Regions from separate parts of the Homo sapiens genome. Here region 1 is linked to region 2. Evidence: fine-mapped expression QTL. A gene starts in region 2. The other region holds a variant in brackets. All regions are shown on one strand. Distances are between the middles of the regions. Region 1 has its middle 130 kb from the start of TBC1D2B. Region 2 holds the start of DNAJA4 (DnaJ heat shock protein family (Hsp40) member A4).

The links. PIP is the estimated chance that this variant, and not a neighbour inherited with it, causes the effect.
Region 1: its variant is the best candidate, but not a certain one, in a credible set for the expression of DNAJA4 in whole blood (TOPMed, PIP 0.68).

The regions. Positions count from the first base shown.
Region 1 is chr15:77,941,389-77,952,475 of GRCh38, forward strand. It overlaps the pseudogene COMMD4P1. Among named protein-coding and RNA genes, the nearest start is that of TBC1D2B, 130 kb to the right of the region's middle. RefSeq lists enhancers at 3,039-3,333, 10,261-10,761. The variant C/T (reference allele first, on the strand shown) is at 5,495.
Region 2 is chr15:78,258,942-78,270,028 of GRCh38, forward strand. DNAJA4 (DnaJ heat shock protein family (Hsp40) member A4) reads left to right here and starts at 5,621. Exons shown (of 7, transcript NM_001130182.2): 1 at 5,621-5,954. The coding sequence starts at 5,823. It overlaps DNAJA4-DT (DNAJA4 divergent transcript), which reads right to left and starts at 5,203. Exons shown (of 4, transcript XR_001751621.1): 1 at 5,116-5,203; 2 at 4,931-5,016. RefSeq lists silencers at 5,475-5,554, 5,865-6,154.

The sequences.
Region 1 (11,087 bases), 320 kb before region 2:
TGCTGCGTGCACCTTCTAGGATGAGCCTGGACCCTGGCTGGCCTCATACTTACTGCGTAGGCTGCAGACCCGCAAGTGCTTCTGCAAGGGGCTTTGCTTCTCCTCATAACAGCGGCACAGGCTGGCCGCGTGCTCTGGGGGTAGAATGGAGAAGCTCTGGAGGTAGCAGGTGGGGGCCTGGCTTGGGCTCCTGGCCCAGACAGGGCAGGGTACACCTCAGGGTCACAGGGCCTGTCCCCTCTCTAGCAGCCCTTGGCCCACAGGCTGCCCAGCTGCCCACCCACAACCCGTACCTTTGGGCAGCCCCAGCTGCTGCAGTTCACTGGCCAAGGATTCGCCATCGACACTGTGCTTGGCAGTTCCGGAGAGCATGAAACTCAGCACTGCCACTGTGGCCTTCACATCGCCTGACTCTCAGGGACCCATGCATGGGACAGGGGGTGTCACTGTGGGCCCAGCCACCCCCCTGTTGCCCTATTAACTTCAGCTCAAAGCCCCCAGGCCTCCTGGAGCCACAGGCACTGCTACTGCTCCACCAGGAGCTGGCAGAGGACAGGAAGGTGGGACTGTCAATGTCTTTCTTTCCCTCATGCTCCTCCACTAGGGAAGGCAGGTTAAGGATACTGCTGGGATGTGTGTGTTGGCGGGGGGTGGGGGGTGGGGGCGGGCTCTGTACCAGGCACCAGGCCGAGGTCCCAGGGTTGCCTGGGGCCTGTGAACTCAGTGGGGTGCTCACCAAACTTGGCATCAGCCGTGAGTTTCAGGATCTTCTTATACTATGGGGAAAGGAGACCTTCAGGCGGTGCCAGGCCCCTGCTCACCAGCCCCTCACCTACAGCCTGGATCCTGCAATAAGGAACAGACAGGCTGGAAAGAAGTATGGGAGGTGCCCAGAGAGGTTGCAAGGCCGGGTCACCCGTCTCCCTGGGCCTAGTGCAGTTTCAGGGCAGGAGGGGTCATAAGGGCATGGGACAATGGGGTGCTGGATCTTGTACTCACATCAATCCCCTGTCCCAGCAGCTCCTTTAGTACCTGGCTGCAGAGCAGCCGCAACTTCACAGAGGACTGGAAGGGAAGTCCTTACATCAGCCAGGCTGGCAAACCTCACCCCTCCTTCCTGGGGACTGGCTCAGAGCAGGCCAGCCACTGATCAAGGTCACAAAGCATGGTAGCACAGGCTGAGAGCACTGAGGCCCTAACCCCAGAGAAACCTCATCATCATCTACACCCACAATCCCCACCCCCAACACCCCTCCTCCACTCAGACTACACCCTGTGCACTCAACCATCTTGGCCAGCGTGCTGATCTCTGCCAGCACCCAGTCGGGACAGTCCAGATCACCACAGAACCAGAACCTCTGCAAGGGAGGGAGTCAGGTAATCAGGCTGGAGGGAAGGCTGAGGTGTGGCCAGGATCTGTGTGTCTCCCACACTGCTGCCCAGCAAGGACCCCTGGTCCCCATCATAGATGGACACCCTCTGGCCATTTGTTCTCCCCTATCACCAGGCTATTGAGTAAACTCTCTCCCTGACCCACCCTGCCACCAAACCCTGCTCTTTGGTCTACTCCAGGCATTCATCTGCTCAGCAAACATCAATTGAGCACCTTTCTTTGTGCTAGCTCCCACTCTAAGAGCTGGGGGTACAGCAGGAGATAAAACAAAGTCCTGTGCCTCACACAGATGAGTGACCTCTCTCCCCTCTTCCCCATACCCACACAAGTCCAGCCACTCCGGCTTCCCTGCTGCTGCTCCGGGACACCAGCCTTGCTCCCGCCTCCATGCCTGCTGCACTCTCTACGTGGCTTGCTATCCTTTATTTCATTCCACTCTCTGCTCAAGTGACACCTCATCAGACCAGCCCCTCTTTTTTTTTTTTTTTTTTAAAGATGGAGTCTCGCTCTGTTGCCCAGGCTGGAGTGCAATGGCACAATCCACAATCTTGGCTCACTGCAACCTCCGCCTCCCAGCTTCAAGCAGTTCTCCTGCCTCAGCCTCCCAAGTAGCTGAGACTACAGGCATGTGCCACCACACCCGGCTTTTTTGTATTTTTAGTAGAGACAGGGTTTCACCACGTTGGCCATGCTGGTCTTGAACTCCTGACCTCAGGTCATCTGCACACTTCGGCCCCTCAAAGTGCTGGGATTACAGGCGTGAGCCACTGTACCCAGCCAGGCCCGCCCTTCTTGATGATACTTCCTAAAATAGCCCCTCACACAAGGAAATTTTGGGGGCCGGTGGATATTTCATTATCTTGATTGTGGTGATCCAACAGTCAGGAAGATTTGGTCTTTACTTGTCCAGCCTCATCCTTCCCTAACCTGCAGATAATACTCTCTCAGCTATGGGAAATGCATTCATTCCTGGGGAGTCATGCTCTCTCTAACCTGAAGTCTCTGCACATGCTGTTCCCTGTCTGAAGACACACGCCTCCCACCCTTGCCTCCCAACCCCTGGTACACAAACTGTACTTCAGCCAGCCAGCTCCTGCCATCCATCCGCCTTTAAGGTTGAAGGCATCCTCAGGAAGCCCCCTTAGCACTACACACAAGGCGCAGTTAGGTCTCTGCCCCTGGAGCCTTGACTATGACTCCAATTCAAGGCTCCGATTTCCCCTTCCCTCAGCAGCTCAGGTCCTCCCAGTGCCTAGCACACTTCATGGTATAGACTAGGCGCTTAGAACGTAGGGATGGATGGACTGGATGGATGGATGGATAAGTCTCAACCCCAAAACTACTACTTTCTGACTCTGGAAACAGCGGAGGGGCTGCCTAACAGTGTGGAAGTGTGATCCTAATTCTAAGCGCGTTCTTGTCTAAGTCCCACAGCAGGGCTGGGGAAGGGAGTGTCCTTGGGAGGTCCTCTTGTGGCTGGGGAAGACCCGAAAGGACTCCCAGCTCCAGACAAGCCCTAGTTCCTGCCCCGGGAGGCAGGGGCCCTTCCTTTCCCCAGGGAAGCACGGGGACTCTAAGCCGGCCGGCCTGCGCTGTCTTACCCGCCCCGTACCCCCGCCCCTGTCTCGGGAGCGGAGTAGCGGTGGACTTTTCTCACGCCCGCACACACTGTTTGCGGAGAGGCCAGGGCAGACAACCTCCACCCGTTTCCGGAGCCACTGGCGCCCCCTCATTCCCGCTCCAGCAGCCCATGCCTCGCTTCACCCCTGGTGCCTCATCATCGCACCAGGAAGCCAGGGCCCGGGAATTTCTTTTTCCGGTCCGACAGGGTCAACTGAGTCGACGATCACTTGACTTGGACTAACGGCCTCTGGGAGGGCGGGGCCTGCTCGAGTGAGGCCGGGAGCGGACCGCAGCCCGCTGGAGGTGCCGGGGGCGAAATGCTGGCGTCTCCTCCTCCGTCTCCCAGAATCCTTCCCTGGAAAAAAACAGCATCCACCGTCAGTTTAACTGAGGACCGAATTAAGGCATTAGGAAAGACAGTGGAAGTTATTTCATTTGTTTAACTTAAGGGGGTAGGATCCCGGGAGCCAGGGGGATTCAGGTCATTGTCATGTTTTCCACTGTTAAGCGAATAGCATTATACACAGCTGCGGACTGTGGCAAAAGACATTTTAAAAACTATTGAAGTCTACTACACATACAGAAAATTGTACCTATTAGAAATATAAAGCTTAATAAGTTTTCATCAACTGTACACCTCACATAACCAGCACCCAGATAAGGAAATAACCAGATAACTTCTTCAAGCGCATGGGTATTTTATTTCATTTTGATGAATCGTCTAGGTGCCTAACAAAAAGGGCTGTCATAATTAACATGCTCAGGAAAACTCCCTACAGCTTCAACATCAACAGATGCTTAATTTTTGCCAGTCTGATGGGGGAAAAAATCGGTTGCTTAGGTTGCAGTGGTAGTCTGCTTACTGGTAGCTCTGAGCTAATGGTAGCCTGGAACAACTAAGTTTCCGACATTGACTTGCAGAGGCAAAAACAAAAAGACAAAACAACAACAAAAATACATCAGAGAATAAACTAATAACCAAAGAAGAAACTGAAGACAGTCATCCCTTAGTAACTTCAGGATATTGGTTCCGGGACCCCAGAGATACCAAAATTCACTGATGCTCAAGGCCCTGATATAATATGGCATAGTATTTGCATATAACCTATGCACATCCTTCCGTATATTTTAAATCATCTCTAGATTACTATAATACCTAATACAATGTAAGTGCTTTGTAAGTACCTGTTATAAAGTATTTATAACTTTTTGCTTTTTATTGTTTTACTTTTTCCAAATATTTTTGATGCACAGTTGGTTAAATCCAAGGATCTTGAACCCGAGGATGCAGAGGGCTGACCGTAGTTTGAACTCTCTCCTCAATTCCATGCCTATCCCATGCACCAGGTGCAGCTGGTTTTATTGCTGCAGGCTTTCAAGTTTTCAAAAGACAGCTCATGGCAAGTAAACTGCTCTATAGAATAGAAAGAAATGGAAAGTGTCCCAATTCATGGTAAAATTGAGCTCATTTCTGAAGAGTTCTTTTACAAGTCATAAGCACTAGCCTGTTGAAAACCACAGTATGTTAAGTTACTAGACTATCCTATACCATGTCAAAGAAAAACTTTAAGGACATAAGACCTGTAATCATAACACTTTGGGAGGCTAAGGCCGGTGGGTCGCTTGAGCCCACGAGTTCTAGACCAGCTTGGGCAACATAGGGAGACCCCGGTCTCTACAAAAAATTAGCTGCTTCTGCTGGTGCACACGTGTCGTCGCAGCTACCTAAGAGGCTGAGGTGGGAGGATCTCTTGAGCATGGGAGGTGGAGGCTGCAGTGAGCCATGATGTCGCCACTATACTCCATCCAGCCTGAGCAACAGAAGGAGACCGTCTCAGAAAAAAGAAAAAAAAATGGCTGGGCGCAGTGGCTCATGCCTGTAATCCTAGCACTTTGGGAGGCTGAGGCAGGCAGATCACTTGAGGTCAGGAGTTGGAGACCAGCCTGGCCAACATGGCAAAACCTGTCTCTACTAAAAAAAAAAAAAACAAATGAATTGGGCGTGGTGGCGGGTGCCTGTAATCCCAGCTACTCGGGAGGCTGAGGCACGAGAATCGCTTGAACCCGGGAGATGGAGGCTGCAGTGAGCCGAGATTGCACCGCTGCATTTCAGTCAGCTTGAGCAACAGGGTGAGACTCCGTCTCAAAAAAAAAAAAGGTAACTTTTACTTCATCCTATCAATAGGTTAAAGAAGAGTAAAATGGACAGATTTGGAAAACCATTTTTTATTTAAAAAGAGAAAATTAGGAACAGATGAAAACTGTCTTAAGAGTATTTGAGAAACAAAACAGCAAATTTAACATCAGACAAAATATCTAAATTGAGAAATAAAGTTAAAAGGTGGATGGTGTGCCCTTTTAATGTCATACTGGAGCATTGTTTCATAGATACTTGTTTTACTATTAAAGATTGACTATTTAGAGCAGTGGTCCTCACACATTAGAGTGCATCATCATCCCCTGCAGGGCTTGTGAAAC[C/T]GGCTGCTGGGCCTCACACCAGAGTTTCTAACTCAGTAGGACTGAGGGGGGGCCTAAGCACTGCATGTCTATGTTCCCAGGTGACGCTGATGCTTCCAATTTGAGACCATGCTTTGAAAAGCAGTAGTGTAGGGAAATATACTACAGAATATGTTGTGAATATACTGGAGAATATGTATATATGTTAACTTACAGAATTCTGTCCAGTAGAAAAGATAACTCCCAAAGATGACATTTTTATTTCCCAATATGATTTTTTTTTAAGTCAGAATCTTGCTCTGTCGCCCAGGCTAGAGTGCAGTGGCATGATCTCGGCTCACTGCAGCCTCCACCTCCCGGGTTCAAGTGATTCTCCTGCCTCAGCCTCCCAAGTAGCTGGGACTACAAGCGCCCAGCACCGCACCTCGCTAATTTTTGTATTTTTAGTAGAGACGGGGTTTCACCATGTTGGCCAGGCTGGTCTTGAACTCCTGACCTCAGGTGATCCACCCACCTCGGCCTCCCAAAGTGCTGGGATTACAGGTGTGAGCCACCATGCCCAGCCTGCCTATAGGATATTAACAAGTTTTGTCTCTATCTCAGAATGCATTTCAGAATGCCCTTCCTGGAGCACTACAGACACTGTCTCTCAAAACGCTCCTCTAACTAGCTTCACCGTGTTGCTGACTCCCTTGTAAATTAAAGAAAATATCTTATACATATTCCTTCATTATCTGTATGAAAGTCAAGCTTTTCACATTGTGAAAATTATACTTCAGGCTGGATGCAGTGGCTCACGCCTGGAATCCCAGCACTTCGGGAAGTCGTATTGATGGGATCACTTGAGGCCAGGCATTTGACACCAGCCTGGCCAACATGTTGAACCCCATATGTACTCAAAAAAAAAAAATCAAAATTAGCTGGGTGTGGTGGCACACACCTGTAGTTCCAGCTACTTGAGAGGTGGAGGCACAAAAATTGATTGAACCTGTGAGGCAGAGGTTGCCATGAGCTGAGATCGTGTCACTGCACTCCAGCCAGAGCCAGAGCGAGACTCTGTCTCAAAGAAAAAATAAAATAAAAGAAAGAAAATTATACTTCGATACAGTATGCTAATATAAAGGATATGATATTGTTTGGCTCTGTGTCCCCATCCAAACCTCACCTTGAATTGCAATAATCCCCACGTGTCAAGGGTGGGACCAGGTGGAGATAATTGAATCATGGGGGCAGTTTCTCCCGTGCTGTTCTCGTGATAGTGAGTGAGTTCTCACGAGATCTGTTGGTTTTATTATAGGCTTTCCCCTTTGCTCGGCTCTCCTTCTCTCTCCTGCTGCCCTGGGAAGAGGTGTCTTCTGCCATAATTGTAAGTTTCCTGAGGCCTCCCCGGCCATGCAGAACTGTGAGTCAATTTAAACCTCTTTTCTTTATAAACTACCCAGTCTTGGGTATTTCTTCATAGCAGCATGAGAATGGACTAATACAGTGTACTAATAACAGCCCAGACAGTAGTATACAGGTACTACTATACTTTGATGCTAGAGGTATTCCCATTAAGGTCAGGAGCAGTATGCGCTATCATTACCATGATCTAACATTGTTCCAGAGGGTTTTAGGTCAGCAGTTCTCAACTGGAGGTGATTTTGCCGCCCTGGGGATATTTGACAGTATCTGAAATCACTTTGGCTGTCACACTGAGGAGTGCTGCTGGCATGTGGCAGGCGGAGGCTGGGGATGCTGCTAAACATCCTGCGAGGCGCAAACAGCTCCAGAACAGAGAACTGTCCAGCCCTAAACATCAACAGTGCTGCTGTGGAGAAAGCCTGGTCTAGACAAATAAAACATGGGAAATCCATTAACATACATGTGGGTGGATAATCAACTGGCATTTGCCAATGGCAGTCTAGCTAGGAGGTCCAAAAGGAGCACCTGAAGGACAGTTAGATTTTGCAGGGGCTGCATGGTGGCTCATGCCTGCAACCCCAGTGCATTGTGAGGTCGCATTGGGAATATCTCTTGAGGCCAGGCGTTCAAGACCAGCGTGGGAAACATAGACTGCATCTCTACCAAAAATAAAAAAATTAACCAGATGTGGTGCTGCGCTCTGAGAGTCCCAGCTGCTAAGGTGGGAGTATCGCTTGAGCCCGGGAGCTGGAGGCTACAGTGAGCTGTGATCATGCCACTGTACTCAAAAAAAATTTTTTTGAGACAGCGTTTTTCTCTGTTGCATATGGGGTCTTGCTGTGTTGCCCAGGCTGGTCTCAAACTCCTAACCTCAAGCAGTCTTCCTCCCTCCGCCTCTGAAAATGTTGAGATTACAGGTGTGAGCCACTCCCCCAGCCTTAAAAAATAAAAATAAAAAATTACAAGGTATTATGTGGCCCATTGAAAGATGTTGGAAAACAGTTGTGCATGTGACCCAGCTGTAACCAGTTATAAAAGTGTCAGGATCATTAAGAAATGTACTGTGTCTGGCTTTCCCAAGTTTGGGTTCCTGCTGAAGGAATGAGATGGACCTTTTCTTCCTCCCCTCCTCACCTCCCTGCAAGAACCAGGATTGTGCATTTTGACGGGCAGGCTCTTACCTCTGACAGGCCACAGGGGGCATGCAGAGCCTTTCTGCATGTGCTTTTTGGGCACTCGGATAAAGACCCCCTGTCCAGGCCTTTGTTTAGGATATTTGGCCCATGGAGAAATGAGGCTGGAATCACCTGGGAGGGATAGAGGCTTCAACTGGAAGGAGGAGTGACCTGAACTCCAGGTTGTGGGCCTACGCTTTGTTCCCATGCAGCACCTCGTTAGTGGTGACTGAGGCCTGGAAGTCAGGGGCCTTGGTGACCAAGTGTTGAGTGGACAGGAGGAGCTAAGGGAGGTGAGGGGCATCTCTCCAGTACTGACCCCTCCCCATGCCCAAATCAATGCCCTCTATCAGCTCAGACACAGCCCCACCCAGCAGCAGTGCGGGTCAGGAAGGGCAAATGCAGTCGGCACGGATCTGCTCCATAGTCTCCACCTCACTTCGTCTCGGGTTGAGGGGAGTGAGTCCCCACAGCACTGATATGATATCCTGTCAGCTGAGAACATCCAGCTTGATTTAGACAGATAAGGTGGGACATCTCTAGGGCATGGTGTGTGGAGCAGTGCCATCCCTCTGTGGCAGCGAGCCAAGCAATAAACCAGAATGTGCAAAACCTGCGTCCCAGAATCACCATTCCTGGAGGAAAAGCCTATATTGTCAAGATGCCCACAACTAAATTAACCCAAACATTCCACCCAGCCTCGAAAAACCAGTAGAACTTTGACATTAATACACTAACCCTCAGTTCTATACGGAAATGTGTAAGAATAGCCAAATAATGTAACGTGCGGTCATTGAGAGAGAGAAGCCCGTCAGAACAAATGGAACCAAGTCCAGAAACATGTTTGTCTAGGCGCAAGATGCCAGCATGTGTGTCAGCCAGGGAAGCAGACCAGGAGGAGATATTAAGATTTAAAACCCAGCTCTGTAGCTCAGGCCTATAATTTGAGCGCTTTGGGAGGCTGAGGTGGGAGAATCACTTGAGCCCAGGAGTTTGAGGCAGCAGTAAGCTATGATCGTGCCACTGCATTCCAGCCTGGATGACAGAGCAAGACCCCATCTCAAAAAAAAAAAAAAAAGTGCTCAGATGCACCCTTACATGAAGCCACCTTTGGCACAGCTTCCAAGACTGGCCAGGCCTCACTCAGGACCATGGGTCCCAGCCATAGCTCAGTTTCCACTGCCTGAGTGGCACAGAGTCCTCAGTCCAGTCTCTATTGGGTCTCAGATCCCCCGATCATGCCCCTTCTGCCCAACCTCTGCCCCATTATGGCCTCCACTGACCACAGCCTCTTCCACCTTCCCAAAGGGACCACTGCTCATGTTCTCCAGCCCACAGGAGTGCCTGCTTCTCCAGGCAGCCCACCCTGCTAGCTCTGGGCTCTATGTAGAAGAGCTGGGAAGGCTGGATCCCGCCACTGAGTTCAGTCTCGGGGGTCTCCACCCATGCTAGGCTTCCACTGATGGGACATAAGTGGCCTGAGGGTTGTTTACATCCACACAAGAGCCCCATGGTGACCAGGAATGGGGTTCTGAGAGGTTACATGACTTGCCCAGGGTCCCAGAGCTGGCTAGAATTCCTGCACTGCCACATTTGGGCCTCCCAGTTGGGGGTCCGGACACCCCTCTGCATCTACCAGGCTGAGAAACACGTGTCTGCTGCAGCTTCCTCCCAGTGACTTATAGCAGCTGCAAATTTTTGGGGGGCCTTCTACGGGGCCCACCACAGCAGGGAGCCAAGAACTCTTAACAGAGCCCTGTGTTCTCTCTCCGCCCCCTTCAGCTCCGAACTCATGTACTAGCTGCTCTGATGTAAAAACAGACCTTGGTGAGGATGTTGGGACTCTGGCCAGTAGCCCAGGCCTTCAGGAATCAGGTGATGTCAATCTGGAGAGGAGGTGCCTGCTGCGGGGAGCAAGCATGGGCCAGGGTCCTGGCCCCCTGCAGGGGTAGCCCCTCTTCCTTCCCATGGTCCCATCTGAAGGCATCCAGGGTAGAGTGCAGTGTTCAGCTGTGTCCTGGGGTCCAGGAAAGCCAAGGAGAAGTTGCTCCACCTGCTGTCCACCAGGTACCCCAGCAGAGAACAGCCTCAGCCCACCCCAGCCCAGCACCAGATCCCAGGGACTGATCCACCTGTAAGAGGGCAGCATGGGACTGCCCCCATTGCCCCCAGAGAGTCCCCTCAGTCATGGGCTCTGACCAGGGTGCAGGTGGGCCCAGCAGGCTGGCCCAGCATGGGTGTGGCTGCCCATTGGTCCTCTGAAGAGCCTCAGGGGCTTGTGGCAGCAGGTGTATGTCTGGGCTTGGAAGCAGAGGATGTCCCGCAGCCAGAAGGCAGGGGGCACTTGTTTTGCATTCCAGTCCTCTGCAAGGACAGGGACCCCAGGCTCTGGGCACCCCAGCTCTGCCCACCCTACACCCACAGCCTACCACCATTTGGCCCAGGCAAGTTGCCCCAGCTCCCACAGAGGGAGCCACCCTTCCCACCTCCTGATGTTTGCCCACCCCAGTCAAGTTCCATTCTGGAAAAACCCTCCACATCCTTGGGAAGGCACCTCCTCCTTGACTCCTTTCCAGTGCTATCATCCCCACGTTCATTTTCTACCTATCATTGGATGCAGAGACCCGCTTCTTCCCTGGGCCAGGGCTGCTCTGGAGGCAGGGAGGTTGTGACCAGGCTGTGGGGTATAGCAGAGCACCGGGTATAGACCAGACTCCCCAGGCACACCTGGGCAGAGAAGTCAGAGACCCACAGGTGAATGCCCCTCTTTCCAGCCCCACCCACCTCACAGGCAGAAAGAGGGAGGCTTCACAAGGAGGTTGAGGTAAATAGGGAGCCCGGGTCACCTCTGTCTGATCTCCTGCCCTCCTGGGACAAAGCCAGAGGTTGGAGCTGGGAGGTGTTGAGAGCCCTGGCCCAGCCCTGGTTTCACTGATGAGGCTCAGGGAGGGGCTGGGTCAGCCTAAGTCACTGGGTCCATAAGGAAGGGCCCTTTCCATAACCCAGGACCCTAGAGCTAGCCGAGGCCACATCCC
Region 2 (11,087 bases):
CTGTTGCCTGTGCCTAGAACTCCCTAACCCGAGTCCTGCACGCCTGGCTCCTTCTCAACCTCCAGGATTCATGCGAAGGTCATCTCCTCCTTCTGACCACCCAGAATTCAAAAGGACACTTTTCCTTTGCTCCTACAGTTAGAGCTTTATTTCTAGATTTTTTCTTGTCCTCTGTGTGGGGGAGACAGGATCTGTTCCCCGGTGTGCTCCAAAGCCTCTTGCAACACTGGACACAAAAGGCACTTTACATATCTGTTGGAAGGATGGAGGGATGTCTTCTCTCTGGACTCTGGGACCTCAAAAGATGGGTGCCCTGATGAGAAAACCTCAGAATTTTGTCTCTAAAGCCCAAATATGTGGCAGGATGACCACTCCCTCACTTTCTTAGTTTTTTTCTCCCCAAACAGAGGCAGCCCCAACCTCTGGTGACAGCAACTCTGGGTAAAGGCCAAGTTCCAGGAAGAAGTGACTTCTCAGAGACCAGGCCCTAACCCACAGGAATGTAGCCAGGGGCTCAGGTTTTATTGTTCAAGCAAGGTGGCAACGGTTAACTACTTCAGTGTGAGTTCTTAGAAAATTCTATGGGTTGGAATGCTAGCAAAATCAGCCCGTGCTAGGGGTCACCCAAAGTGGTTGGAGTCAGATGTTGAGGTGCAGCTAGTCTCTGAGCTCCTCGAGGACAGGCATAACCTTAATCTAGTGCTGTATTGTTGGTTCCCAGCACAGAGCCAGACACATAGCTGCTGTGCACAAATCCTGTTGTGATGAAATCAATAAATTTCATCGTGAGAACACGTGCTTTCTGCACATGGTAAGCCCTTTACACATTGTCTCCATTCATCTGTACAATAATTCTGTGAAGCAGATGTTCTTATCCCCATTTTGCAAAGGAGGAAATGGATGTTCAGAGAAAGCTAATTTGCCCAGGGTCACACAGCCAGTGAGGGGCAAGGCCTCTCCAAGTGGAAATCCCTCCCAATATTAAAACAATGGCCTGAAATGACAACTGCTGTTTCGGGGGCCAATAAATTAATGTCCTCCCCTTGAAGTACTGGTCCCCCCCATTCCCAGCCTCTCTGCCACCCAGGCACTGTCTCCTCTACCCCTCGCTGCTCTGGCCTTGCATGATTTTGGTCCTCTCTGCTTTCTGGGTTCTCCTCTTGCTTCTCCGATGGCTGTTGCTCCTTCCACTTCCTAAAGACAGGCGCTCCCCAACGCTTTTCCTTGGAGCTCTCTTTCTCCTTCTATGCCCTCTCTCTGGGCTTGCCTCTACAAACCGGCATGCCCAGCTTGGGCCTCTCCCAGGAGGTCCAGATCCACCCAGCCCCCGGGGTCTGCTGCTAGTTACACCTCTCAGAACGCAGGTCCTGCTCTGAAACCTTCAATGGCTCCCCAGGGCCCAGGAGAGCAGCAAACTGCTCCTCAAGGCATTCAAGGCTCTAGCACACCTGTCCCTGCTTCCCTTCCAATTCAGAGCCTTCATCCATCTGTGCTCTCTGCCTTTATCCTGCTGTCCGTTCAGCATGGCTGCCCTCCCTTTCCCTGCTGCTAAAGGGAGCTCTAACTTCCTGGTCTATGGCACATGTCCCTCGTCCATGAAGTCCTTCCTGACCCCCCTCCCCAGGTAGGTGTGGCTTCTCCCTCTCAGAAGACTCCTTGAAGACCCCATCCCAGCATTCCTTGGGTAAAACCTACTTCCGTGCTTGCTTTGACTCTCCTTCTACACTGGGTCAGAAAGGAAGCCCCACACTGCATCAAGGGACAATGGCTGTTCTGTATAATGTGGCTTCTTTGTCTAAAAGTCTCCCCAACTGTAGAATGAGATGGTAGAACTGGATCAGCATTTCCCAAATTTCTGTCATTCAAGTATCACCACTGTTGCTTTATTCTTGTACTACAGGTACTATCATACACTTACTATTTATCTACTCTTTTTTAAAAGAATATAAAAAGGAAACCATACATTGCTTACTGTGAGTGGAAAGTCAGTGTCACTTTTAATAAAAGTTGCAGTAATGAAAAGGTCATCATGAAAATAAACACATAACTGACAAAATAAGAAATGTCTGTGTAATGCCTCCAATCCTCCCAAGCATAATTCTGGGAAATAATCTACTAGATTGTCAGAGGCTTTGTCTAAGATAAACAAAGCTGAACAGTAGTTAAAATTGTAAGGACAGAATTTAATCAGTCATAACTATTGCAATAGGGAAAACAATCTAGTATGAACTGAGCTCAATATCGATTTGTACGAAAAGTAATTGGGCATTTTGAAAAGAACATGAGGGAATAGGGAGAAGGACAAGCAGCAGTTTAACAGAATCAGGGAAGTGAAAAATGACAAAGGGTTGGTCAGTGTAAGTGACATTAGGCCAGCTGTGTCTGCTAGCTGCCAATTGCCAAAGTTAGGATGCCGTTCTCCCAAAGAGACTGGGAGACAGAAGCTCTATCCTCAGGTGTTGGATGAAACAAAAACACAGTAAATATTTTGGCAGCCTTGAGTTTTCTCAGGCAGGCACTTTAAGAGGGGGTAGTGGGGCCAGGGTCACCTTAGGTAGGGGCCCCCAACTCCTAGGCTGCGGACCAGTACTGGTCTGTGGCCTGTCAGGAACCAAGCAGTGGCATTAGATTCTCACAGGAGCTTGAAATCTGCTGTGAACTGTGCATGCGGGGGATCTAGGTTGCATGCTCCTTATAAGAATCTAACGCCTGATGATCTAAGGTGGAACAGTTTCATCCTCCATTTTTTTTTCTTTTTTGAGATAGAGTCTTTCTCTGTTGCCCAGGCTGGCATGCAGTAGCACAGTCTCAGCTCACTGCAACCTCTGCCTCCCGGGTTTAAGTGATTCTCCTATTTCAGCCTCCTGAGTAGCTGGGATTACAGGCACGTGCCACCACACCTGGCTAATTTTTGTATTTTTAGTAGAGACGGGGTTTCACCATGTTGGCCAGGCTGGTCTCAAACTCTTGAGCTCAAGTGATCTGCCCACTTCGACCTCCCAAAGTGCTGGGATTACAGGCCTGAGCCACCACACCTGGCCAAAAATATCTGATTTTACTAGACAATCCTATTGTTATTTATTTTTTATTTTTTGAGACAGAGTCTTGCTCTGTCACCCAGGCTGGAGTGCAGTGGTGTGATCTCAGCTCACTGCAGCCTCTGCCTCCCGGGTTCAAGCGATTCTTGTGCCTCAGCCTCCTGAGTAGCTGGGATTACAGGCGAGCACCACCATCCCTGGCTAATTTTTGTATTTTTAGTAGAGATGGAGTTTCACCAAGTTGGCCAGACTGGTCTTGAACTCGTGGCCTCAAGTGATCTGCCCACCTCGGCGTCCCAAAGTGCTGGGATTACAGGTGTGAGCCACCACGCCAGGCCTTCATCATAGAATTATTGCCCACCCCCACCACCCTGTCCGTGACAAAATCGTCTTCCATGAAACTGGTCTCTGGTGCCAAAAAGCCTGGGAACTGGTGATCTTAAGGATGTGACGTTGAATTATTAGAAACTGTGTTGCTGTCTGTTCAGTCTTTATAGGCCAAGACTGAAGCCTAGTTGAGAAGAGGGCTCATAGGAGCCTGGCTAAGTTCCATCAAGAAGAGAATCACTATCAGCTTCTATACCTTAGCCCCTGCCCGCACCCCCCCACCCCCAAAAAGCATCAATATTGTGACTATATACCAGGTGTTTCACAAAGTTATGAAGTAGTTATAATTAATATCCTCATTAAAAGGTTAAGAAAACTGAGGCTCAGAAAGGTTAAGTTGTCTGCCCAAGGTTCCACAGCCAGAAGTAGCAGTGCTGGGATTTGAACCTAGGTCTAAGTCTCACTGGTTCCAGAATTCACTGTCGTCCAAAGTGCATAGCTCCATTCTATGTTTCTAGGCTCTGTCTTTAAGCCATCCCTCTCCTGCACATGCCCATTTTACGAATGCCTATGGTCCCGAGTACTAAATCTGGACAAGTATGTGACCCTGGGCAGTGGATCTCGGCTCTGGCTGTACCACCTGGGGAGCTTGAAAAACACTGATGCCTGGGCCTCACCCCTAGAAGCTCTAAGGTAACAGGTGTGGAGTGCAACCCAGAGGGATTTTTAGAAGATTCCAGGTGATCTCTGTCAGGAGCCAGGTTTGAGACCCACTGCGCTAGGAGTCTTCACAGTTATCATCCCATTTGATGCTTATAAGAGCCCTGTGAGAAAGGCAGGCAAGTGGCAATCCCCATGTCCTGCTGACGAAGAAAAGTGTTGAGATGCTAAGGCTCAGACAGTAAGATCTGGATAGAAAACAAAGTTTCTGACCTCTAGCTCTGAGTTCTCTGCCTAAAGGTTCTGCTCTACAAGGCATAATTTAAAAAAAAAAAAAGCAACATCTCCAAGAAGAGCAGCTTAATTTCTCTTGTACAGTACAAGTCACTTCTCACCCCCATGGAACACATGGAGGAGAGGTAGTACCTGCTTCAGCCACAGTACCCAAAACAAGGCCAGGGCATCCCAGGGAGGTGAGCAGTGACCCCCCTTTCTGACAAACTGTTCCCCTGGCAGAAGCCAAGGGAGGGCTAGGGGACAGGGGCCTGCAATTCTGTGATAGCGTTGGGGCCTGCTTTCCACGCCCACTTTTCTGCAACGGTTTGTGATCTGGACTCCCTGAGCACCCGTTGGGAGCTGGGGGCAGCCTAGGGAAGTCGGGACCTACTCCTGTACCCTTCCAAGGCAAGCATCCTGGGCCACCTAGCCGTTTCAGGGTCCAGGCCATGGGACCCCCTGTGCATAACACTGGGCCCAACAGCCTGGTCGGGCCCTGATGTTTGCTCACTGATGATGTGCAGAGGAGAGGGGGCAGTTTCCCACTTCTGGGAGAAGAGAGGGCACTGTCGGCCCTTGGCAGACTTGGGGGGCGTCACTGCCCATATGTGGGGGACGTCACTGCTCACCTTGAGGGACTTAAGGGTTCCCAGTGGTGGGCATTCGAGAGGATACTGTCCACATCTGGGGCCAGCAAAGGACCCCTGTACCTCAACTGGAAGGCCAGAGGTTCACCTCAGCCTTGCAGTCATGAGGCAGCAGAGGGCCCCTACCCACTCCAACCCCCTAAAAAATGCAACAATCCCAGGCACACCTTAGGCCGCAGCCTGGCTGTGACCGAACAGACGGCGGCCACACCCCCGGGGAGAGGCCGGGTGGGGACCGCAGGGCGCAGCTCTCCCAGTCCCACCCTTCGGCGCAGGGCTCCGGCCAACACAGCCCTCCAGGCCGCCTACTCTCCAGCCAGCCGGCTCCACGGACCCACGGAAGGGCAAGGGGGCGGCCTCGGGGCGGCGGGACAGTTGTCGGAGGGCGCCCTCCAGGCCCAAGCCGCCTTCTCCGGCCCCCGCCATGGCCCGGGGCGGCAGTCAGAGCTGGAGCTCCGGGGAATCAGACGGGCAGCCAAAGGAGCAGACGCCCGAGAAGCCCAGGTGAGCGGCTGGGCCGCGCCGGACGGGCGTCGGGGGTCTGGGCCGCGAACCCGCCGCGGGGCCGCCGGAACCTCCGCGAAGGTTCTAGGCCTTTGTGGCGTCACCGTCTCCTTGCGGAAGCTTCCGCCGGCGCCGAATAAAACCCGCCGCGGAGGAGCCGGTGGCTCTAGTGCGGTGGAGCCAGGCGTGGAAGTCGGTCCGGCGCGGGGCGGGGGGCGGGCGGGAGCTACAAGCGGCGGCGGCGGCGGCGACCGTGACCGTGACGCGCGAGCGGGCGGCGGGGGCGCGGGCCAGGGGCGCGGGCCAGGGTGCCGGCAGGGGCGTCCGGGGCGCTCTGACCGGCCTCGCCCGCCCCCCCCGCAGACACAAGATGGTGAAGGAGACCCAGTACTATGACATCCTGGGCGTGAAGCCCAGCGCGTCCCCGGAGGAGATCAAGAAGGCCTATCGGAAGCTGGCGCTCAAGTACCACCCGGACAAGAACCCGGATGAGGGCGAGAAGGTGCGGGGCGGCGCGGGGCACGGGCCGGGCTCCCGAGGGGCCAAGGGTTATTAAGCCAGGAGCATTGAAGGCGACGGGAAACCTGAGCCGCGTTTGTTGGGGAGGCTGTCGCCAGGCGCCTCGGGGCCAGGCCGGGCAGAGGTGGCGGGAGACCCTGGGCGCCGTGCGGCGCGGTCGGTGGAGGGCGCTTCGCCCGCGGAGGAGGCATGTGGTGCGGCACTTGGGTCCCTCGCGAGTCCCTGCCGAGCCCATTCATTCCTCCATTCGCTCCACAAGTGTTTGGGTAGCCCCTGCCGTGCGCGCCGGACTAGTTCTCATAGGGTGTGTTGGTTCCCTGTGGGAGAGGCGGCCTGGGAATCGGGAAACTGAGGCACACACAAACAGTTGTTTACTTGCTGGGAACGACTGGCTCATATTCTCTGTTGATGCATAAACCCTAGGGATGAGTGTCTTTAATCTGAGCTGGTACCTTGGACAAACGCCGTGCCTCTCTTGAGAATGACTAGCTGGATTTGTTCTGTGCACCTACTGCCTACCTGATAAAAGCGTCAGATAGTGAATAATCCCATTTTCTTTATTAAACAGGGACACGGACATCTGCAACCTGACATCAGCTTGTACTCATATTCTGGGTTTTCGGTGACAAGTGACACACAGTTGATCATAAGTACCAATCATAGACTGAAAATGCTCTGCATTTTAGAGACAGAAGTTAAAAGCTTTTCCATCCTGTTTACAGAAAGTTTGCTTTTTATCTCTAAAGAGGCTCATGACCCACCTGAATAGGTGAATTGAAGGATGAGGCATTGCAAGGAAAGGCTGCTAACCCTCCCGTTCCTCCTTTCACTTCTTGCCATTTTCTTACAAAACTTTGGTTGTTCCGCATGGGTCTTGAGAGGTGGGGCCGTTATAGTAGCTGATAGCAGTGTCACTTGGGCCACGTTTGAAACCACACCAATCACCCATGTAGCATTTAAGACCTGTGGAAACGACGCTGGAATCAAAATACCTGTCTGTGTTAGTTGTTCCAAGCTGGAGAAAGCTACTTCAGGACGGTTGGCTGAATGGCAACAGTGATGGAATATTTATATTTAGCCACATGTGCTGAATGTGGCTGTCACAAGTTTAAAATGCTTTCCTGTAAGACCATTTGTCTGTTACTCACTTGCGTTCTTTCTCATCTATATTTAGATGGCTTACTGTAGCTTTTAAAGGCACTGGCGTTTTACATGGTGCTGGTGATTCATCCACCTGCTCCCTACATTCATTGTGGTCCGCTTCTGACAGTCTCCTTTAAGGAGAGCTTGTAGGCTTCTAATTTCACATTTCAGCAAGCTGGCTAAAGACATGTGGGAAAGCCTGACCCTGGATTCAGGTCAAATCTCAGCACTCACAAGAGTAAGTTCATGCCTCTGTGTATACAGTTAGAGCTGAATATGCTTTTGTTCTGAAGCTTTTATTTTTAAAAAATTAGACTTGACCTGTACTACATATGTGTAGGTTTCACCCTGTCTATACCTGTCTGGGCAGGTTGTTTGGTTTGTTTTAAACTAATATTTATTCATAGCCAGGCACTGAGTTAGTGTCACATAAATGAGGCCCTTGGCAGTGAGGTCTGGCAGGCCCATCAGCTTGGAGGGAAGGGTTCTGTGATGTGCCCATTGCCAGGAATACTTTCCTTCCTCTACCTTCATGGAAGGGGATAAAACTCTTTAGTTCTCAGCTAAAACATCTTCCAGGAGGCTGCCTCTGCCTCATAGACTGAACCACAGGCCCAACGTGCATCCTACTTTAATGGTGATTACTTGTTTGATTAACTGTATTCCTTTAATGGTGATTACTTGTTTGATAACTGTATTACCTGCCATAATGTAAGCAGGGCAGTGACTGTGCCCCCATGGCCACTTATGGGGTGAGTATCTAGCTGTGCAGGGTAGGTGCTAAAATGTTTGTTAGCTGGCTGAGTAAATGCACTTTAAAAAATTGTGTGTAGGAGGAGAGGGCCCTATAAAGGCACAAATTGGAAGGGAAATTGCAGTGAAAGGGATATTGGGAGGAGAGTGGCAATTTAGATCGGAAATCAAAGAGGATGAGGAGACTGGGGACACAATTTATAGAAACGGCTGTAGAGTTCCCCAGAGAGAGCTCATTCATTCATTCATTCATTCATTCAACAAATACCTCCTCTTCTGGTCCCCACTGTGTGCTGGGTGCACTGTGCAGGCCTTTTGTGAGTGTGTATGTGAGTGTGTGTGTGAGTGTGTATGTGAGTGTGTGAGTGTGTGAGTGTGTGTGTGAGTGTGTATGTGAGTGTGTATGTGTGTGTAGTTCTTTTCCACTTTATCACAGGTAGAACCTTTAAATTTTTTTTTCCTCCTAAGTTCGTCACTGTATTATTAACGTCTCTTCAAAAATAGACTACACCAGTTCTTTACCCCTTGCTGGGAAAACTGAGAAGGCCGTTGAAATGTTGGTCTTTGTTTTTTGCCCTGTTGTCCCCTGTTGCTAAGCATTGGGGCACCTTGTGTTTTTTGGGCACTCTGTATGGAGTCTGTACTTCTCTGCGGGTGTTTTTTTTTTGTTTTTTGTTTTTTTTGCAAGATGCATGGGTGGTAGGTAGTGGGTCACCAAGATAGTCCCTTTTAGGGGCAATGATGTGGGGTATATTCTTGGCTATTACCCTGTTGAGATGAGTTTGGTCTTTTGGTCAATTTCATTGTAACTTTTAGTTTGAATAATAGACTTTCAAGTTCAAAAATCAGAACATAGCAAACCATGCAGAAAATTTTAGAACACAGAGGGAAACCTACCAAGTACACATTATCCTAACCACTCTGTGCTTCTTTCCAAGCTTTCCCCAGTATGATCATACATGGCCATCCTGATACATAGACATTTTGTTTTCTTGTTTCCACTTAATATTTTATTATAAGTACTTTTCCCAAGTTGTTACGTAGTCTTCAAAGCCATTTTCCCCTCAGCTGTATAGTAATCCTGTTAAGGTTCTGTGGCAAATGATCATGGTCTGAAAGGCAAGCTCATCATAGCACTCGTCTCCCACTGGGAGAAGGGGGTCCGGGCCGGGAGCTGAATTAGACTTTGGAGTGCTGGGACCCTAGAGGATGGACTCCCTACTGGTAGTTGGAACCCCCATCCCATGTGAGATCTGGCCTCTGACTGAATGTCCCAAGCAACTGGGTACTCCTTTTCCATTCTTAGATCATTCTATTAAGTCTAAATGACATGTGAGTATCCAGGGTATTTGGTGAGTGTTTCCGGTGGACGTTCCCATGAAGTTATTTACCTAGTCCTGACCTGCAGATAGACGCAGAAACTGTCTAGGGGCAGCCTGGCCTAGTTGCTTTCTGATCTGTACCAGGCACCCAATCCTTACACTCTACCTCATGTTTTCTGCTGAGGAAAGGGATAGTAGTGAATGGTACTTACTTCTTCGCAGAAATGGTATGAGAATTAACATATCAAAAGATCTAGCTGCCTTATATATGATGCTGATGTCTTTTTAAGACTTTTCTAAATTGTAGTTTTTTAGCTATTTATTAGCTATTATTATTGGTTACTTATTAGATTTCAATCAGGGATCTGTAGAACAAGGGAATTAATGCCTCAAATTCCCTTGTTCTCTCTCTCAAATTCCTTATTTCATGGCACTTTTTTTCCCTGAATATTTTTTGGAGCCAGCTGCATTATAGGATCTGTTTATCTATATATCCATATTTGTCTCTCCGACTAAACTGTAGCCTCTGGAGGGCCAAGATCCTACCTCATTTATTTATTTCTGAGTTCCCAGAATCGAGCCATTCATCTAACAGGTATTTACCAAGTGCCTTCTACATGCCAGGCATGGTTCCAGGCTCAGTTAGACAGCAGTGGACAAAACCCCCCATCTTCATGGAGCTTATGTTGCAGTGGGGGCTACAGCATAAGCAGTAGATGATGCAGCTTGTTAGAAGGTGGTTCATGATATGGAGAAATATGCAGCAGTTGTGGGGGCTGGGAGGGTCTGAGGTGGGTTTGCAGTGTTAAAGCTGGATCACCAGGAGGCATCCCTGAGAAGGTGGTCTGTGAGCTAAGGCTGGAAAGAGATGAGTCGGGAGGCCGCACCAGGCTGAGGTGCCTCTGAGGCCCAGACTGCAGAGTTGAGGAACAGCAGGGAGCCTGCTGAAACTGGCATAGAATTGGGGTGGGGACACACAGGAGGAGAGGAAAGTACAGGTGCCAAGTTGGGCTTATAGATGAAAGTTAGGACTGGCTTTTACTCCCAGTGACGTGGGCCACCTTGTAGAGGTTTGAGCAGAGGATCGACCCAATTAGTGGGCTCGAGTGGAGAACACACTGAAAGCTGGGGTGAGGAGGGCACATGGAAGACCACGGAGGAGGCCACTGCAGTGGTCCAGGCCTGAGATGGTGCCTTCAGCCAGAGTGGATGTGGTGTGGTAAGAAGGAACAGATCTTGCATGTTTTCGCATTCTGATTTTATTTTAAAAATGTCCATATACCTGCAGAAAACATGAGTGATACAATGAACACCTATGTATTCTTCACCTAGCTTTACCAGTTATAAATAAGTTGTCACATTTGTTTTATCTATTATTATTATTACTGTTGGCTAAAGATTTTGGGAGGAAGCTACCTATAGCATAACCTTTCAGCCCTAAGTGCTGCGTGTTTCTCTTGGGCACAAGGACATCCTTGTACATAACCATAGTAAAGTTATCAAATTCAAGAAGTTTAACATTGGGAACAAAGATTCACATTTCTCCCATTGTTCCAATAATGTCCTTTGTAGCCATTTTTTTTTTTCTCCCCTGTGCAGGATCTGATCCAGGATCACACATTGTATTCGTTTTTTTCTATCTTTTAATTTTAGAGTATCTCTCAATTTGGGTTTTCTGATTCTTTTCGTACAATTGGGTTCCAGTGGTAACTTTTTGGCAGGAATGCTACACATGGGATATTGTGTCTGTCTTAGGGTACTGGAGATGCAAATGTGAAGGTAGCATCAGTGGGATTTGTTGACAGGTGAGATTGGCATTGCCAATAACTGTGATATGGGGAAGACTATGGGTGGGGCGGGGCTTTTGGGGGAGGATCAGGAGTATAGGTTTGTATCCA